3 linked regions of the Homo sapiens genome follow. The protein of the gene in region 3 purifies or fractionates together with the protein of the main gene of each other region. This does not show direct contact. Each region holds a gene or a part of one and is shown on either strand. Other genes may lie near its edges.

Region 1 (2,278 bases), on a different chromosome or scaffold from region 3:
TGCAAGTGTTCATGATTATTGTAGCACTCAGTAGCTGGCAAAGATGTAAAAAGTTAGAGTGAATATACCTGGAACATATTCTGAAAATCTGTTTGTTGGCAGTGGTGGATTTGTCTTTGTACCTTTTTACAAATTCCATCAGCGTATTTTTCTCATTTGCCCTTTATTAAAGGCAGAGGATCGGATTGCTTCATTGCAGATTACTGGAGGTTCTTGCAAGATATGACCTCTGAGTTCTTCAAGGAAGAAATTCCTGTTTTAATTGTTGAACTATACTTCAAAGATGATGTAAAGAATTTGCTGAAATATTTATGTTAAAACTCATTAGACATTAAAGTCTAATTTCATTGTATTGATTGTGGATAATGTGGATAATTTCATTGTATTGGTATCTTTCTTTCTGTATCTAGTTGAAAAATCTAAGTTTAGAAGAACTACAGATGCGGTTAAAAGCACTGGACCCCATGATGGAACGGGAGATAGAAGAACTTCGTCAGAGATACACTGCGAAAAGACAGCCCATTCTGGATGCGATGGATGCAAAGAAAAGAAGGCAGCAAAACTTTTGAGTCTAATTTCCTCTCTGTTTTTAACTATTCTGGAGACCAAGAAACCACTAGGAATTGAAGGAATATTTGGATATTTTTAATCCTAAGATTTTGCCCTACAATTAGGCAGAGGTCAAAAAGTGACAATGGTACATGCCCAGGTAAATTCCCAAAAGGCAGAATTGACAGTTGTATCTGCTGTGCATTCACTCTAAGATGAGGAGAACAAAAGAAGTGTATTCTCTTGTTCTGTCAGCTGCATACCAGTAATAAAACTGTTATGAAATGGATTTTCAAGGTCTCTAAACCTTGAAAATCCAAAGCTATTGTTGCATTGTACAGCACTGAAGGGCTTTATGTTACAATATTCTTTATTCCTATCTAGTATACTAGGCTATTTATTGTATCCCCTTAGGTAAACTTATTTATTTATGCTATTTTGCTTTGTTTCATTTTTTAAGGACAAGATCAGGATAGCTTTGGTGAAGGTAGGGTCATATTAATATGATGATAATGTGCAACCAATTTATACTTTCTGCAGGGAGCTATGGGGTACATTCCTTGATTTCCAGGATAGTTTTTCAAATAGGAAAGCAATAATGGCAGTAGTTCTCAAATGGGCTAGGCCTTTTTTATATTGAAGCAATAATTCCATTTTTACCCTTTGAAATTTTGTTTTTTTGATTTTTGATGTTTGGTACAAATAGAACTATATATATTTAGGTAAAATAGATCTATCGTGTTTAAAACCAAAGAAATCAATGGAACCCTTGCACAAAAAAGTGTGATAAATATTTTTAAATAAAAACTTAATACAAATGTAATTTGTTAATATTGTTTCATGTTTTATGTGTAGATCTAATAGCTGAACTGATTCAAACTGTAATAAGCTCATCAATTTCATTTCTATGAAAATGTGCTCTGTTGTCACAGGATGTTTCTGTTGATTTTATTCATTTCCTGGGAATTGGTAAACATCATGTTCCTGATGATAACCCAGTAGCAAAAACATTTGTACTGAGTGGTACAAGCCTTGGGGACTGAAAAAAAAAAGATTAAAACCATTAAAAAGAAACTCATTTTTACGCTGAATGAACATTTATATGATTGCATTGGGACCAGTCATTTCCTAAGCTACATATGGCCATCTTGACAGTGTTTTTTCTTTTGTGTGTTTAATTATTATGTGTAAATCATAAAGACAAATAAATTTCACTGTGCCACCCAGCATATTTCGTTTCTGTATCTTTGTTAAAACTCATGACCTGGACTCTGCATTTTCCAAGCAAGGGACGTATATTAGTTAGGACAGGCTAGATTATGCAGTGCTGACAACCCTCACCCTTCAGCGGCTTCACATAATACAGGTTATTCCTCACTCTTGCTCCAGGCCCACCCCAGTTTGGCAGGGCGCCCTGCTCCTATCATCCACACCCAGGGACCTGCTGACAGGGCCTCAACCATCTGAGATATCTGTGGTCACCACAATAAGGAGAAGGGGAGCTGGAGAGTTTCATACTAGCTCCAGCCAGTAGTGATACATGTCTGGTTGGCCACAACCCAGTATTCAGAATTAGTCACATGGACACTCCTAACTTCGAGGGAGTCAGGAAGAGTAGCATCACCACGTAGCTGGAGGGGAGAGAACAGGAAAAGCTGATGAGTTCACTAATGTCTGTCACAGAAGGTATATTGTCTCTGGAAAGCTTCCATTCCTTTTTAAAAATGGT
Region 2 (3,500 bases), on a different chromosome or scaffold from region 3:
TGATCCTTTTACAACAAGCCTCATTGTTTGCAGTATAGCTTTTAGTGGAACTACCCAAAATATAAATACAGCAGCGTGCACTGTATTTGATGTGAGGGTTCTTCATCATATACCCTACTGGGCATTAAATATAAGTTCCTCTGAAAGGGACTCGTTTTTGTGGTTTTCATCTGTCTATAATTTGGAATGAAAATGTGTTGTAGGATTTTGGGAGCAGGCAGCTGGGGGGAATTAATAGTGATTTTTTTTTTTTCCTGAAGCATCTATCTCATGTTTTTCTTTTGAGAGTCAGAACATCAAACTTAATCTTTGATCTGACTTCTGATTTTATTCTTCTGATTGATTGATAGAGGTACAAAAGACTTATCTTCTGAGGACAAGCATATTCTTAATGTGCCAGACCTACCCGGTTCAGCTGATATAGATAGATAGATAGATAGAAGAAAATTGCTGTGCCATACATTAATCCAGCATTTGACACAATATCTAAATGGTTTGCCGAAGTTAATCTGTATTTATAAAACATTAACTGGAGTAAATTTTTCTCCTTAGGATGATAGAATAAAAAGAGCTCACTTGAAAGAAGGCTATTATTTGCATTATATCACCTGCCATAAATTTAACATAGAAGACTTGGTTTTATCTACATGGCTTTACTTCTTAAAGTGGAAAATATCCTGTGGCTAATTCATTGGGTTTTCAGGTACTGCTAAAGATAAAATACAGGGAGAAAATAACTTGTTAGCAATAGATCCCCATTGTTTATATATATAGGTCTTGTTCATAATATGTCAATTATGTATTGTTAAAAAGTCCTACTCACTTTTCAAATATGTGTTACATGGTAATGTTTGTCATTGTTGTTTTAAAGTTGCATTTGACATTTGTTCTCCAAAGAGTGTTTGAACAGATTTTGATAACAGTGCATACACCTTTTGTCTTTTTTTGCTCCAGCATTTTATTTTTAGCACAGCAGCTGTGGAGCTTTTGCTGATAATTTTATTGTTGGTATCTTAGAATACTGTTCGTCTGACAGTTTATTCTTCCATACTTGTCTCCCAAGTTAAAACAGAGCAAAACAGATAAATTATTTTGAGAATCATCACAAAAGGGAGTTAGAACTTGTGAGACTAAAACTATAATTTCCTAAATGTGACTAATGAACCCCAAACTGTCACTATTACATTCAGTGCCATATTTATCTTTCAAAACAGTATTTGTTTCACCCTAACCATCTTTGGCTGAATGAAAGGCAGTTGAGAACCATCTTTTGGTCATACATAATATAATTATATTAAAAGTAAAGATCGGGGCTGGGCGCAGTGGCTCACACCTGCAATCCCACCAGCACTTTGGGAGGCCAAGGTGGGCGGATCACAAAGTCAAGAGTTCGAGATCAGCCTGGCCAACATTGTGAAACCCCGCCTCTACAAAAAATACAAAAATTAGCCGGACATGGTGGCGTGCAACTGTAATCCCAACTACTCAGGAGGCTGAGACAGGAGAATCACTTGAACGCAGGAGGCAGAAGTTGCAGTGAGCCAAGATCTCACCATTGCACTCCAGCCTGAGTGACAGAGACTCAGTCTCAAAAACAAAAAGTAAAGGTCTTGGGTTTCTCTCTGTAAATAGCCTTTGTGTAATGGTCTTTAGATTAATATCCTTTGACTTTATTAATAAGTACCTGTGTGCCCAGGTGGATCTCAGCTAAGTCATCCTTAAATTCTGTTCAAATAGAAATAAACCATAAAATGAGCCTAACTATAACCCACACTCACTTATCAAGCATTCCCCCAAAAGTTCAGTGCGATTCAGGTAACCTTGACCTAAACTTGTACACTCCGGTGTACATCTTTGACCATAAACTCTGGGAGATTTCCCTCTGGATTTGGGATCAGGAGCCCAGTAGGGCCCCATTGCTGAATGTTTATCACACTTCTGGCTAGGGCTTATGGATGAGCAGACCACGTAGGAGCTAGGATTTACTCAGTTCCACCTCACTGACAGCTTTTCTAGGTGCCAAGCAACTGACTTTTCCTGTGTAAGGAAGCCCAAGTACTTGACCAGTGATATATATGGCCATGGCAAAAGTATAAATGGATGGATGTAGACCATATTCAACGCAGAATACATTTTAGATCGGTATCTGGCATTGTAATCATTTTGTCTTTTGAATTAACATGCCCTGCTTGTCTTTTCTGAATGGAAGGGTAGGAAAGTGGAAGGTACTAAAAAGGAAAATGTAGTTTTAGTTTCTTTTCTAAGCTAAAGAACTGGCTTTACTACTGCTATATTTTACTACCACATAGTAGTGTAGATGTAGTATAACTTGCTTAGGAATGCTTTCAAAAAGGTTACCTCCATAGTCAAAAAAAGGGGGAGTATACAGCTGATTGTTGCATTTATGAAACTGCATTTCAATATGCTATGCTGTTACTGTGCTTAGACACTTCCTTACGTTTGAGTTCCAAGGAGAGAGAGTGAGAAGAGGAACTCCTTTTGCTGAGCTCTGGTCCAAATTAATGTGAATCCCCAAAGTAAATTGCTGCATATGAACAACAGGTTTTAGGTTTAAATTGAAGATACATTCATTTTATATGTATTTGTTGTGAATGAGAGAAATTGAGTGATCTGATTGGCCATTAAAATTATGGTGAATGGGTCGGGCGCAGTGGCTCACGCCTGTAATCCCAGCACTTTGGGAGGCCGAGGTGGGTAGATACCTGAGGTCAGGAGTTTGAGACCAGCCTGACCAACATGGTGAAACCCCATCTCTACTAAAAATACCAAAATCACCAGGGTGTGGTGGCCCATGCCTGTAATCCTAGCTACTCGGGAGGCTGAGGCAGGAGAATCGGCTTGAACCCAGGAGGCAGAGGTTGCAGTGAGCTGAGATCGCACCACTGTAGTCCAGCCTGGGTGTCAGAGCAAGACTCTGTCACAAAAAGAAAAATTATGGGGAATGGCCGGGCGCGGTGGCTCACACCTGTAATCCCAGCACTTTGGGAGGCCGAGGTGGGTGGATCACCTGAAGTCAGGAGCTCAAGACCAGCCTGGCCAACATGGTGAAACCCCACCTCAACAGAATATACAAAAAAATTAGCTGGGTGTGGTGGCGGGTGCCTGTAATCTCAGCTACTTTGGGATGCTGAGGCAGGAGAATAGCTTGAACCCAGGAGGTGGAGGTTGCAGTGAGTCGAGATTGCACCATTGCACTCCAGCCTGGGCAACAAGAGCAAAACTCTGTCTCAAAAAAAAAAAAAAATGGTGACCATGCGTTCAACCATATAATTTCTTACTGAAATTGAGCTCCTCCTTTTGAATAACCATGTACATATTTTTAAAAGTATTTTATAGCCCTATGTAAATTAATAGTTGATGTCTTTTTATAAATGTTTATTGCATATTCATCTTGAATGTGAATTTACTGTTGTAATTCACATACTGGTGTCATGTTTCTGAGTGAGAATAATGCTAGTCAGTCAGATCACAGATTTTTC
Region 3 (5,053 bases):
TCTGCACTCAATGTGGCAGCCACCTGCCATATGTAGCTACTGGGTACCTGGAATGTGGATGGTTTGAAGTAAAATGTGCTGCAAACAAAAAATGCACAGTGAGTTTAGAATAATTATACCAGAAATATACTTTACTTCTTTTTTTTTTTTTTTTTTTGAGACGGAGTCTTGCTCTGTCGCTCAGGTTGGAGTGCAGTGGTGCAATCTCGGCTCACTGCAAGCTCTGCCTCTCGGGTTCACGCCATTCTCCTGCCTCAGCCTCCTGAGTAGCTGGGACTACAGGTACCCGCCACCACGCCTGGGTAATTTTTTTGTATTTTTAATAGAGACGGGCTTTCACCATGTTAGCCAGGATGGTCTCGATCTCCTGACCTCGTGATCCACCCACCTCAGCCTCCCAAAGTGCTGGGATTACAGGCGTGAGCCACAGCGCCTGGCAAAATATAGGTATTCCTAATTATGTGTCTGGAGTTGGTTCCTTCCGGTGGGTTTGTGGTCTTGCTGACCAAGAATGAAGCCACGGACCTTTGTGGTGAGTGTTACAGCTTTTAAAGATAGCACGAACCCAAAGAGTGAGCAGTAGCAAGGTTTATTTTGAAGAGGGAAATAACAAAGCTTCCACAGCATCGAAGGGGACCCCAGTTGGTTGCCACTGCTGGCTGGGGTGGTCAGCTTTTATTCCACCTCCCATTTCCCCTTAATTGTGCCCTCCCGTGTTCCGTTTTTGTCCTATCACAGTGCCCTTTTTTCAATCCTCCCTGCAATTGGCTACTTTTAGGATCCTGCTGATTGGTGCATTTTACAGAGTGCTGATTGGTGCATTTTACAATCCCCTTGCTAGCTACAGAGCACTGATTGGTGCGTTTTTACAGAGTGCTGATTGGTACATTTTACAATCCTCTTGTAAGACAGGAAAGTTCTCCAAGTCCCCAGTTTACCCAGGAAGTCCAGCTGGCTTCACCTCTCAATTATATATTGATCACATATTAAAACAATAATATTTTGGATATAGTAGGCTAAAATTATCACAAACAATCTCACTTGTTTTTATTATTTTCGATGTGGCTAATAAAAAATTGAAAATTCACTAATAGCTAACATTTTATTTTTTAGAGGATTACTTCCTTCTTAAAATCTCATGTGTCCTACTCAAAAGACCAGAGGCCAGAAAGGTTATAAAACATTAAAATAATTGTCATTATATTGTTTCCGTTTGTGAACAAGTTTGTGTATGCACGCGTGCATGTGTACGTGTGTGTGCATGTGCGTGCATGCATGCGTGTGTGTATAATTTATATTATAAATGGACCTAACCTTACATACCACAAGGTTAAAAAAATGACCACTGGGCTGTACCAAGCCAAGCACAGAGATAACACCCCAGCCTGGGCCGGGCGTGGTGGCTCACGCCTTTAATCCCAGCATTTTGGGAGACATAGGCGAACAGATACCCTGAGGTCAGGAGTTCAAGACCAGCCTGGCCAACATGGTGAAACCCTGTCTCTGCTAAAAATACAGAAATTGGCCGGGTGTGGTGGTGGGCACCTGTAATCCCAGCTACTTGGGAGGCTGAGGAGAATCGCTTAAACCCGGGAGGCAGAGGTTGCAGAGAGCCGAGTTCGCGCCACTGCACTCCAGCCTGGGCGAGAAGAGCCAGACTCAAAAAACAAACACAAAAAACCTGCCTCAAAGTACCAGGAGGCCAGAGCCTGTCACTCTCGCCTCATTCAGTGCTGTGTATGGTTGCAACTTCTGTCACTCAAGGCCTGAGGCGGGAGACTTACAGCTCTATCCAATTAGAGCGCTGGATTGACAACTGCCGAATGAGGCGCGCAGCAGAGAGGAGGGTGCGGCATCCGGGATCTGGCGCGGCTTTTGCTTGTAGCTCCAGCCAGAGCTCGGTTAGGGCCTCATCGCTCTGCTCCCGCTCCTTAGGGAAGCCTCGGTGATTCTGCCACAGCCTCAGCCTCTGTGGCTCTGTGACCTGCCGGTATTGGATGATTCGTATCTAAGACTCTGGGACACTCCTGAAGTCGGGAAATGGTGAGTGTGCAGGGCAGGGCGTCCCAAGGCTGTGGAGGCCTCATCGGAACCGGCGGGAAATGGCGGCGGTGGGAGGAGTCTGTGAATGGAGTTCCCGCTCAGCCCTCTGTCCTCAGTCCCCTCCGGTGAGGGACCCGCGCTCTTGTCAGTCCCCGTACAGCGGCTCTGGCCCAGCCTGCAGCCCTCCTTGTGCAGCTCTGCGCCGGTAGCCCTGCACTTTCCCCGGGCTGTGGAGTGAGTAGGAGCTCATCCGGAAGACACCGCGGCGGCCTGCGCGGTGCCGGCGTGGGAGGAGCTGTGGTCCGGAATCCCGTCCCTACTTTACCCTGTTCAGAATGAGATTGAGGCCCCATCAAAACATGGAGTTCATGTGAGCAAACAGGACTTATTAATGGGAAAGCTCTGCCGTGGCTCGTGGTTTGGGGACTGCCAGCGGGTCTTGAAGGAAAGGCTTTTGTGAGGTGTGTGAGGAAGCGAAGCAAATCACCTGCCTGCGCCAACTTTGCCGCCAGTCCCCTTGCCCTGTGCGCCTCCTCCGCGTGGCTGTTCCTGAATACGCTGGTGTCTGTTCGCATCTTTTAGAATACGCTGGTGTCGGTGCGCACAGCGCTTCTCTTAGTTCTGTGAGTAGTTCTGCCACATTATTGAACTTGAGGAGGGTGTGGGCGTCCCTGGTTTGTAGGCAGGGGTTCAGAAATGAAGACGGGTGTCCAGAGGCAGGGACTGGCGTCTGCAGGAGAGCAGCTGCGGGAAGAGTGCTGAGCTTGTGGGGTCAGCGCTGACTCTGGGTGGTGTCGTTAGTGAGTTGCTGGACACCCCGTTGGGGTTGGAGCATTGACTGGTGTTGAGGAAACTCCGCAAGTTTTCTGTCAGAAGAAAGACATGGCCGAGTCTGGGTTGGAGGAAGTCACCTGGTGTCCGCAGGAGGCGCGGCCGGGTTCTGCACAGGCGCTGTCCCGCTGGGCACTGTCCTCTTCCTCCAGGCCTCCTCCCGGGGAGAAAGGGGACTGGGAACTTAGAGGAAAGCAGTTCTAAGAAACATCCCTTCCCCGCATCCTGCTGCCAGCCCCCACCCAATGCTAACCCACTCCTGAGCACGCCCACTGGGCATTCGCACGGCCACACCTGGCCTAAGACAGGGTTCTACCCTCAGGAATTGTGCCCATGGCAGTTTTGCTCCTACAGTTTTCTGCCAAAAGCACACGCAGTGCCCAGAAGACTCCTGGCTCATCTCAACCCCAGATCTGTTTAGCAGGAGCCCGTTTCCTTCTCCAACCCAGGCTTCTGGACCATCTGATCTTAATCTCCTATGCCTTTATGGACTCAGGAATCAGTCAGTGCGTAGCCCTGCCTGGGCCTGTACCTGTAGCACAAACCAGTCCTTTCATCAGTTGTGCCCTGCCCCCACCCCATGGCTCTTGATAGCTCCTTGCTGTCTTGTGCTTTTTCCTTCCCCACAAATCCTCTTTTCTGTGCATACAGTGTGCCCAAGTTCATCCCTTACGTGCCTACAAGAATTCAGACGTTAGGGAATTCAAGACCATGCCTTAGACCTGGCTGTTGTAGGAGCAAATACAAATTAGAAGAGGCTTAATGATTTCTCTTTAGAGTGAGGGAAGAATTTTTGCTCTTCTCCCTTTTCTTAAAGCATTTAGGTGGAAAATTTTTATAATTATTTTCACCAGTTTTTGAAATATATGTAAATCATTTTTATCAGTTAAATAGGTCATTTGTCTTTTTTGACTCAGACTTGTCTTTATCTAGGACTTGGGAACTATTGCTTTGAAATGTGAATAGCAAGAATATATCCCACAGTTTCTGTAGGAGGGTGGGAGGCTGCCTTCAGCAGGTACCTGGCTCCACATTGTGGGTCTACGTCCTGTCATGAAGATGTGGGAAGTTTATTTTTCTTTTGAATATTACCAATTAGAAAACCCAGATTACCTCCCAAATTACTAGGTGAAATAATAAACTGTGTAAATGGTGCTTTCAAGTCTTCTACTTAAGAACTAATGGTGACTTTTTTTCTGTGTTTGCAGTCTCTTAGTAGATTGCCTGTGATGCACATCACATTTTGGTTTAATTATATAACAAAACATTTTCTTGCTGTTCTATTATGGTGGAAAATTTTTTTAGGATTGGAGATAATTTTTCTCTTTTTTTTTTTTTTTAAGACGGAGTCTTCGCTGTGTCGCCAGGCTGGAGTGCAGTAGTGCGATCTCGGCTCACCGCATTCTCCACCTCCCAGGTTCAAGCGATTCACCTGCTCAGCCTCCTGAGTAGTTGGGATTACAGGCGCGCCACCACACTCAGCTAATTTTTTTGTATTTTTAGTAGAGACGGGGTTTCGCCATGTTGGCCAGGATGGTCTCCATCTTCTGACCTCATGATCCACCGGCCTTGGCCTCCCAAAGTGCTGGGATTATAGGCGTGAGCCACCGTGCCTGGCTGAAAATTTTTCTTTTAGTCATATTTTCCATGCACTGTTTAGAAGTACTGGACGTTATATACAAAGTGCCCACCAGGCTTCACTTGAGAGAAAAACCTTTCTTCTCAGGATTCCAGCCACAACCCACAATTGTATGACAAAGTGCAGCAAGGTGCTCCCCAAATCTGCAAACAAAATAGTCTCTCTATTTGGGATCTACAGTCCCTTCTAGAGCAGTTAGACTAGATTTCTACAAAAATCACTTCAGGACAGCAATCAGTTATTTCACCTCCTTCAGTGCTCCTGTCATCTTCAGATCTGACACGGATTCAGAGATCACGGGGCCCATAAACCCAACCAGGATCATACATGTGCATTGATTAAACTTGAGAACTTCAATTCTCTCCCTCCTCCCTTTGCCCAAATGCCCGCAAATGTGCATAGCTCACCAGCCCTCCAAGACCTAAATGTGCAGTTCCAAATTCTGAATTTATTTTCTGGGATTTGAGAGAAGAAAAGAACTTTTATTTGAGAAATACATGTTCTTTTAATGATCAGACCCAGAGACTGGTTAAAATGAGA

The links. The genes of interacting proteins can lie anywhere in the genome.
Region 1: the proteins of ZNF718 (region 3) and STK3 purify together in Homo sapiens (affinity purification with mass spectrometry; one large-scale study listed by BioGRID and IntAct). This does not show direct contact.
Region 2: the proteins of ZNF718 (region 3) and TRIM24 purify together in Homo sapiens (affinity purification with mass spectrometry; one large-scale study listed by BioGRID and IntAct). This does not show direct contact.

Annotation. Positions count from the first base shown.
Region 1 is NC_000008.11:98,454,133-98,456,410, reverse strand, and holds the end of STK3 (serine/threonine-protein kinase 3), read left to right. Parts: exon of another isoform or gene 1-172; coding exon of another isoform or gene 173-226; exon of another isoform or gene 227-410; coding exon 411-569; 3' UTR 570-1,778; downstream 1,779-2,278. UniProt on the Homo sapiens protein: Stress-activated, pro-apoptotic kinase which, following caspase-cleavage, enters the nucleus and induces chromatin condensation followed by internucleosomal DNA fragmentation.
Region 2 is NC_000007.14:138,585,759-138,589,258, forward strand, and holds part of TRIM24 (transcription intermediary factor 1-alpha), read left to right. Parts: 3' UTR 1-3,500. UniProt on the Homo sapiens protein: Transcriptional coactivator that interacts with numerous nuclear receptors and coactivators and modulates the transcription of target genes.
Region 3 is NC_000004.12:122,631-127,683, forward strand, and holds the start of ZNF718 (zinc finger protein 718), read left to right. Parts: upstream 1-1,870; 5' UTR 1,871-2,040; coding exon 2,041-2,043; exon of another isoform or gene 2,044-2,141; coding exon of another isoform or gene 2,142-2,618; exon of another isoform or gene 2,619-2,961; intron 2,962-4,433; exon of another isoform or gene 4,434-5,053. Other genes in the region: uncharacterized protein LOC124900641, read right to left, coding at 2,142-2,618. UniProt on the Homo sapiens protein: May be involved in transcriptional regulation.